2 linked regions of the Homo sapiens genome follow. The protein of the gene in region 2 purifies or fractionates together with the protein of the main gene of each other region. This does not show direct contact. Each region holds a gene or a part of one and is shown on either strand. Other genes may lie near its edges.

Region 1 (3,500 bases), on a different chromosome or scaffold from region 2:
CGAACCTGGGAGGCAGAGTTTGCAGTGAGCCGAGATTGCATCACTGCACTACAGCCTGGGTGACAGAGCAAGATTTTGTCTCAAAAGAAAAAAAAAGAAAGAAATGAACAAAAACGTTCTAGTTTGGGGCATGTTACATTTGAAATGGCTATTAGACTTCCACATCAAGATATCAAGAAAACAGTGGATATATGTTGTCTGGAGTTCAGAAAGAAATCTAGGGGTAAAGTCTATATTTAAAACATACTTGAAGCCATGAAACCTTACAACATTTTCACCTAGGGAGAAAATGTAGGAAGTTTAGATATGGATAGAGAAAATGGAGGACCCACAAGAGGGGACAGGAAAGGATGGCTTCCAAAACCAAGAGAAGACTACAAAGTGGACCTTCTATCTTTAAGAAATTTAGGGTGTACTGGCAAAGGAAGATTAAAATTAATAATGATATAATGTGATTACAAGGTGATACATGCTGTAATAATAACCATATTTTTCTCTCATGCTATGTACCTGCAAGTATTTATTAAATTTTATTTTGACAAAATTTCAAATAAGAATCAAGAAGTGGAATGTACTTTTTTATTGAATGAGGATGGATAGCCTCAGAATATTACGCCAGTAGAGTAGAGAGAGAGAGGGCAGAAGAACTGATGAAGTGGACGGAATTTACTCTTGGATATTCTCATATTTCTCACTTACCTTATAATATCCCCCAGAAAACAATCAGGCTTTTTCCCGGACCCTAATGCTGATTTCTGTGACTAGAAGAGTGTTCAAGCTGGGCTCAGAAGATGTGGGCTTAAACTCATCTCTAATGTTTACCATCCAGATGAATCTTGAGCAATTTAGAATCTATTTATAGGGCCCCAATTTCCCTATGTGTAAAATAATAACAACACTATATGCTTCACAGGGCTGCTGAAGGGTAAATGAGAATTTATAAATTATAAACTATAGTGTAGATATAAAAATTATGACAAGATTATTGTAATCTCAATTTACATACTAGTTGATAAGGCTTTAAGTTCTGAATATGCACAGTGATGTTAACTTTTTAATAAGTAAAGTTTTAATAAGGAATCCCTGGCTACCAACACCTCTATATTGAAAGAAATAATTTTCCAATCAACACAAGTCATGTTATTGTGAAATGATGAATCTGGGTTGTTCTTTTGAAGTGGCCTTTCATCATAACTCCCTCAAATCCAGACACCTAAAGAATCCTTTCTTCCAAGTGCTTAGAATAAATAAAACTCTTCAAGCTGCCCAAATCTCAAAAAAGTGCCTGGTGAGAGAAAGAGTTTCCAAAGAACTTGAATATGAGAAGGTAGCACAGAAATACCTTGACCTGATCCTTAGAAAATACAGGAATGTGAGGTCAGGAGTTCGAGACCAGCCTGGCCAACATGGTGAAACATCGTCTCTACTAAAAATACAAAAATTAGCTGGGCGTGGTGGCCCACACCTGTAATTGCAGCTACTTGGGAGGCTGATGGAGGAGAATCACTTGAACTTGGGAGGCAGAGGTTGCAGTGAGCCAAGATCGTGCCACTGCACTTCAGCCTGGGTGACAGAGCGAGACTCCGTCTCAAAAAAAATAAAAAGAAAAGAAAATACAGGAATGTACCGGAGATTAGCATTAACCCACAGCCAGAAAAGGTCAGTCCTGGAGCTCTAGCAACAACCTGCTTTTGTGGAGTGATTTCAGGGAGCAGATAGTCTGGCTTCTCTCTTCCAGATGTCCCAAAGAAAGACTTGAAGGGATGTATTCTGGAGTCAGATGAAGAGCTCTGTCAACTATAGCATTATTTAGCATAATGCTTTCATTCTCTTTAAAAAAGGATCACAGATTTTCAAATGGTCATAAAAATAAGCTGGTAGCAAATGAAGAAATGAATTGTGCTTTCTAATTTCAATTAAATGTAATCTTGGGCCGGGTGCCGTGGCTCACACCTGTAATTCCAGCACTTTCAGAGGCCGCGGCGGGAAGATCACCTGAGGTCAGGAGTTCAAGACCAGCCTGGCCAACATGGTGAAACCCCCATCTCTACTAAGAATACAAAAATTAGCCAGGCATGCAGTACACACCTGTAATTCCAGCTTCTAGGGAGGCTGAGGCAGGAGAATCCCTTGAACCCAGGAGACGTAGGTTGCAGTGAGCTGAGATCATGCCACTGCACTCCAACTGGGTGACAGAGTGAGACTCTGTCTCAAAATACAAAAGTAAAAAATGTAATCTTGGCCTTTCTGTCTTCTAATTCTCTCCCTTTCTGACTAATTTTCTCCTCCTCTTCCTTCCTCAGAGAATTTGGCATTCCTCTAGTTATTTTAGGAGTCTTCTGCTTTCTCATACCCTCCTTTCTTGCTGCAAGTGCCATGTGTCTCTCCTTCTCCTTCCCTTGACTCCAGCCTACTCTATCCTTGTTCCTCATGTCTTCTCCCTCTTCTCTGCTCTCAAAAGTACAGTTTGCAAATGGAGAAACATTCTCCTAAAAGTTACTTAGTCTGAGACTCAGTTTTCCCATCCATATAATGAAGATAATAACCGTACCCACCTTATGATATTACTAAGAAATTAAATAAATTTGTATTTGTAAACCACTCAGAATAGGGCCTAACATAAAGTGTTACATGAAGACTTTTTTAATAAAAATAAATAATGAATGTGAACAGGCAGGCAGGGTTGCTATCTTTAATACACCCTCCCTGGCATATCTATATTTATTATAAGGACCTCCATACTTCAGTCACCTAAACTCAAACTTTAGAGGCATGCATTTTCAACTCCTTCCTCTCTCAGACTTCTCTAAATCCAACTCTAGTCTACAATTTCTGTTATAACCACCTGTAACTGCCAATCATAATAACTAATCAATATATTAAGTAAATCAAACAAACTGGTCATTTGATACATGTTCCAGGCCAAGCTAACATTAAAATTAATAGGATTTTAATCAATTTGCCTTCATATAAAAATGTGGTAGGTATTATTTTGGTCACCTAAAGTAAAATAGCTGAAACTATTTTACATATGAATAAACACTTTTAAATGTTAATACTTTATTCAATAACAAATTAGTTATTGTTATCATTTCCATGCATTTACTCATTCAATTAATAGCTAATGAGTACCTGCCATATGCCAGGCATAGTTTTAGGTATTGGACTTACAGAGGTGAATCAAAGAGGGGCCTTCGTGAGGCTCATGTGATTAAGGGAATGAACCACATAACTATTTCAAAGCAAATAAAATTAGACTTTGGATCTGGAATTTAATTTAATCCAAATCATTTTATAAATGAATAAGCCGACATCCAGGCACATTAAGTGACTTGACCAAAGTCACTCAGCTATTCAGTGGCAGACACAGGACAGAGCCAAACCTCCACTGCTGGTCTGTTGCAGCATGTTTCATACATGTTCCTATAAGATCTGGACATTCTTTGCAACATCCTCAGAGACCATCTGGAAAGGGAAAGACCGAGATCATGGAATGTGAG
Region 2 (3,500 bases):
CAGGCACTTGCCCTTGTGGCCGCCTTTGACCGGAAGAGTCTACGTTCAGACAGCCCCATGGCTCTTTCCAGGTCTGCATTCAAGCGTCACCTCAAGCTGCCATCACCCCACCCCACACATCCCCTTTGGCTCTTGGTTCCTGCCTAACCTGCAGCTTCTAACGTGCTGTTCCTTTCCCTTCTTTGCCCCTTGTATTTTCTGTGGCTCCAGGAGAGCAGGCATTCTCGTCTGCTCACTGCCGTCTCCTCGGTGCCTAGAATATAGCAGGTGTTCAACCGATATTTTTAAATGTATGAGAGGCTGAATTTATATCACGCCTCAAAACAAGAGGACTGGGGAATCCAAACATCTAAAGAAGACTGCAGCGGGGATACCCTCGGGGAGAAGTCTAGGGGCTTCCCACCCCTCCTTTTTTCTCAGTAATGTTCTTCCTAATGCTTCTCACGGACTCTCAAATTCTAAGTAACCCCAGAAAAACAACTATGAAATTCACCAGTCAAATATACAAACCACCTCGAGTGTTTGTGCATTCTCTCCCCCACCACACACACATACACACGCACGCGCGCGCACACACACACACACGCACACACAAACACATATACACCAAAAAAGAAAAGTTGAGTCTGTTTTCCATCTGGACTTTCAGACAAACCAATCATCTGTGTCCTTAATAGGTGTATTTATTGGGCAATTTCAGAATAAGTAGCATAGTGTGAGATGAGTGGGAAAAGACGGTGCTTGACCCACGGAAGTTTCTATTTATAGTCTTCCTAAAGCAGCATCCAGCAGGCACTCATTTAATGAAAAAGGAGACACACTGCTATTGACACAAAGTGAGATCAGGGTGCTGGTCCTGAGCTCTTATTGTGCTACTAGTACAGTCACAAAAATGTCCCTCCAGAGCTAAGTGCAGTGGCCCGTGCCTGTCATCCCAGCACTTTGGGAGCCCAAAGTAGGAGGATCACTTGAGGCCAGGAGTTTGAGACCAGCCTGGGCAACACAGCAAAACTCTGTCTCTACAAAAAAATAAAAAAGTTAGCCAGGCATGGTGGTGCACACCTGTAGTCCTGGCTACTCTGGAGGTTCAGGAAGGAGAATCACTTGAGCCCAGGAGTGTGAGGCTGCAGTGAGCTATGATCGCACCACCGCACTCCAGCCTGAGTGACAGAGCAAGGCTCTGTCTCAAAAAAAAAAAAAAAAAATTTTCCTCCAAACAGAAATGAGCTGCACCTAGCCACACAAGGAAAGCCCCTCGGGAACAAAAGCAAGTGCCCTCCTTACACAGGGAGCCACAGAATCTTAGGGTTGCAAGGGTACTTGAAAATTTTCTCATCGGCTGGGCGCGGCGGCTCACGTCTGTAATCCCAGCACTTTGGGAGGCCGAGGCAGGCGGATCACGAGGTCAGGAGATCGAGACCGTCTTGGCCAAAATGGTGAAATCCCGTCTCTACTAAAAAATACAAAAAAATTAGCCGGGTGTGGTGGTGCTACTTGGGAGGCTGAGGCAGGGGAATCGCTTGAACCTGGGAGGCGGAGGTTGCGGTGAGCTGAGATCCCGCCACTGCACTCCAGCCTGGTGACAGAGCAAGACTCTATCTCAAAAAAAAAAAAAGAAAAGAAAAGAAAATTATCTCATGTTCCCTGTTCCCCACCCCCAACCTGCCTTGATTTTATAGATGAAGAAACTGAGACAGGGAGAAGGTAATGTAGGTCAATGTCCAAGCAGTCCACAGGCCACAAAACCCCTCATGGCTGAACCAGACCTAAAACCCAGTCTCAAATCCTCCACGATGCCTTGTCCAGCCATCTACAGACAGGAACAACTTCAACTTCAAATGCTCAGTCTACACGAAAAACATGCATTCATATCCCGCGGAGATGAAGATCCATTTTCTAGGGCATGCCATGTTCTGTACTCCAGGGGAAATGAGGTTTGTTGGGAGACTCATTCTGCCACGTGCCAAGTACCCAGGCCTTTCCATTCACATACATTTCACAGCCTGGAAATTGCAGAAGTGACTTCTATGAGTCTAGGGTGCTTCCTAGACACCACACCGAAGCTTTCCTCCCATCCATATACTTCTCCGAATAGTATTTTAGGGGTTTTTTTATTTTTTGCTTCAGTAGTCACTGAAAGATAGCTACGATAGGGACGGCCTGAACAGCCTTGGCAAATACACCAACAGAAATGTGTACCCCTCCTAATTTGCCATTACATAACATTTATTTGTTCTCATAGTGTGCCAAGGGTCTGAAAACATGTTGATTAATAGACAATAATTAAGTCTCACCACCTTATTCAGAGATATGGTTATGTTCTGGGATTCCCTTTTGTAGGAGGCTGCACTGAAGCGCACAGGTTGAAAGGTTTGTCCCTGAGACCTGACTCAGAGGTGCATCAGACAACCCAGGCCAGACCACAAAGCCCAGTCCTTTCTCTTATGCTGCTCTTTGCTTCCTCAATCTCATTTTCCACCCTCCTGGGCCAACCTTCACTCCCATTCGGCCCCCACTCTCCAGCAAGGTCCCTCTAACCATACAGCCTAACCGCCTTGACCCCTTAGCTTCCAACAGTAAATGCTCGGCTCCATGAGGTGAGATACCTGGATAAGGCAGTGGATATCAGATTACAAAGTCTGGCAAAATGAGTGCTCCTCCAGCCTTTGCAATGCTTTATTTTAAATACATGTGAACATTGTGAGCTGACAGCCCTGCTTCTTACAAGGCTTTCCTGCCTTCGTATCTTAAAGACGTAGGGAGAAAGTAGGGCAAACAAAGTGACTGGAACTGCGGCATACTTTGGAAATGAATGCCAGTGGTTAATTGTCGATGCCTTTCATTTGTGTTAGATTTCATTCAAAACAAGAGAAGGGCCCAGACTCAAAATCCCCACTGAAGGGACCAGAAGTCAACTCCACATTAAGACTCGGGCCAGAGTCACCGGTCATGGCCCAGGGTGGAGCAGGCATCTTGAACTGGGGACCACTTCTAGAAAGTACACAGAGGCGGCTGGGCGCAGTAGCTCACGCCTGTAATCCCAGCACTTTGGGAGGCCGAGGCAGGCGGATCATGAGGTCAGGAGATCGAGACCATCCTGGCTAACACGGTGAAACCCCGTCTCTACTAAAAATACAAAAAAATTAGCCAGGCATGGCGGCGGGCGTCTGTAGTCCCAGTTACTCGGGAGGCTGAGACAGGAGAATGGCGTGAACCCATGAGGCAGAGCTTGCAGTGAGCCGAGATTGCGCCACTGCACTCCAGCCTGGGCAACAGAGTGAGACTCCGTCTCAAAAAAAAAAAAAAGAAAGTCCACAGAAGCAAAAGGACGACAATCCAAAAGCTCTGAAATGCTTCCAAGTTTTCCAAGTTTAGATAACATTATGCTATCATTATTGCCATCATTATGTTTTCTCATTTATTTTATTTTATTTTTTTGAGACCGAGTCTCACTCTGTGGCCCAGGCTGGAGGGCAGTGGCGCAATCTCAACTCACTGAA

What was found. Proteins that work in one complex are often made in the same cells at the same time.
Region 1: the proteins of CAMK1D (region 2) and MUC7 purify together in Homo sapiens (affinity purification with mass spectrometry; 3 studies listed by BioGRID and IntAct, with this or other methods). This does not show direct contact.

What each region holds. Positions count from the first base shown.
Region 1 is NC_000004.12:70,475,197-70,478,696, forward strand, and holds part of MUC7 (mucin-7 precursor), read left to right. Parts: intron 1-3,500. UniProt on the Homo sapiens protein: May function in a protective capacity by promoting the clearance of bacteria in the oral cavity and aiding in mastication, speech, and swallowing. Binds P.aeruginosa pili.
Region 2 is NC_000010.11:12,352,547-12,356,046, reverse strand, and holds part of CAMK1D (calcium/calmodulin-dependent protein kinase type 1D), read right to left. Parts: intron 1-3,500. UniProt on the Homo sapiens protein: Calcium/calmodulin-dependent protein kinase that operates in the calcium-triggered CaMKK-CaMK1 signaling cascade and, upon calcium influx, activates CREB-dependent gene transcription, regulates calcium-mediated granulocyte function and respiratory burst and promotes basal dendritic growth of hippocampal neurons.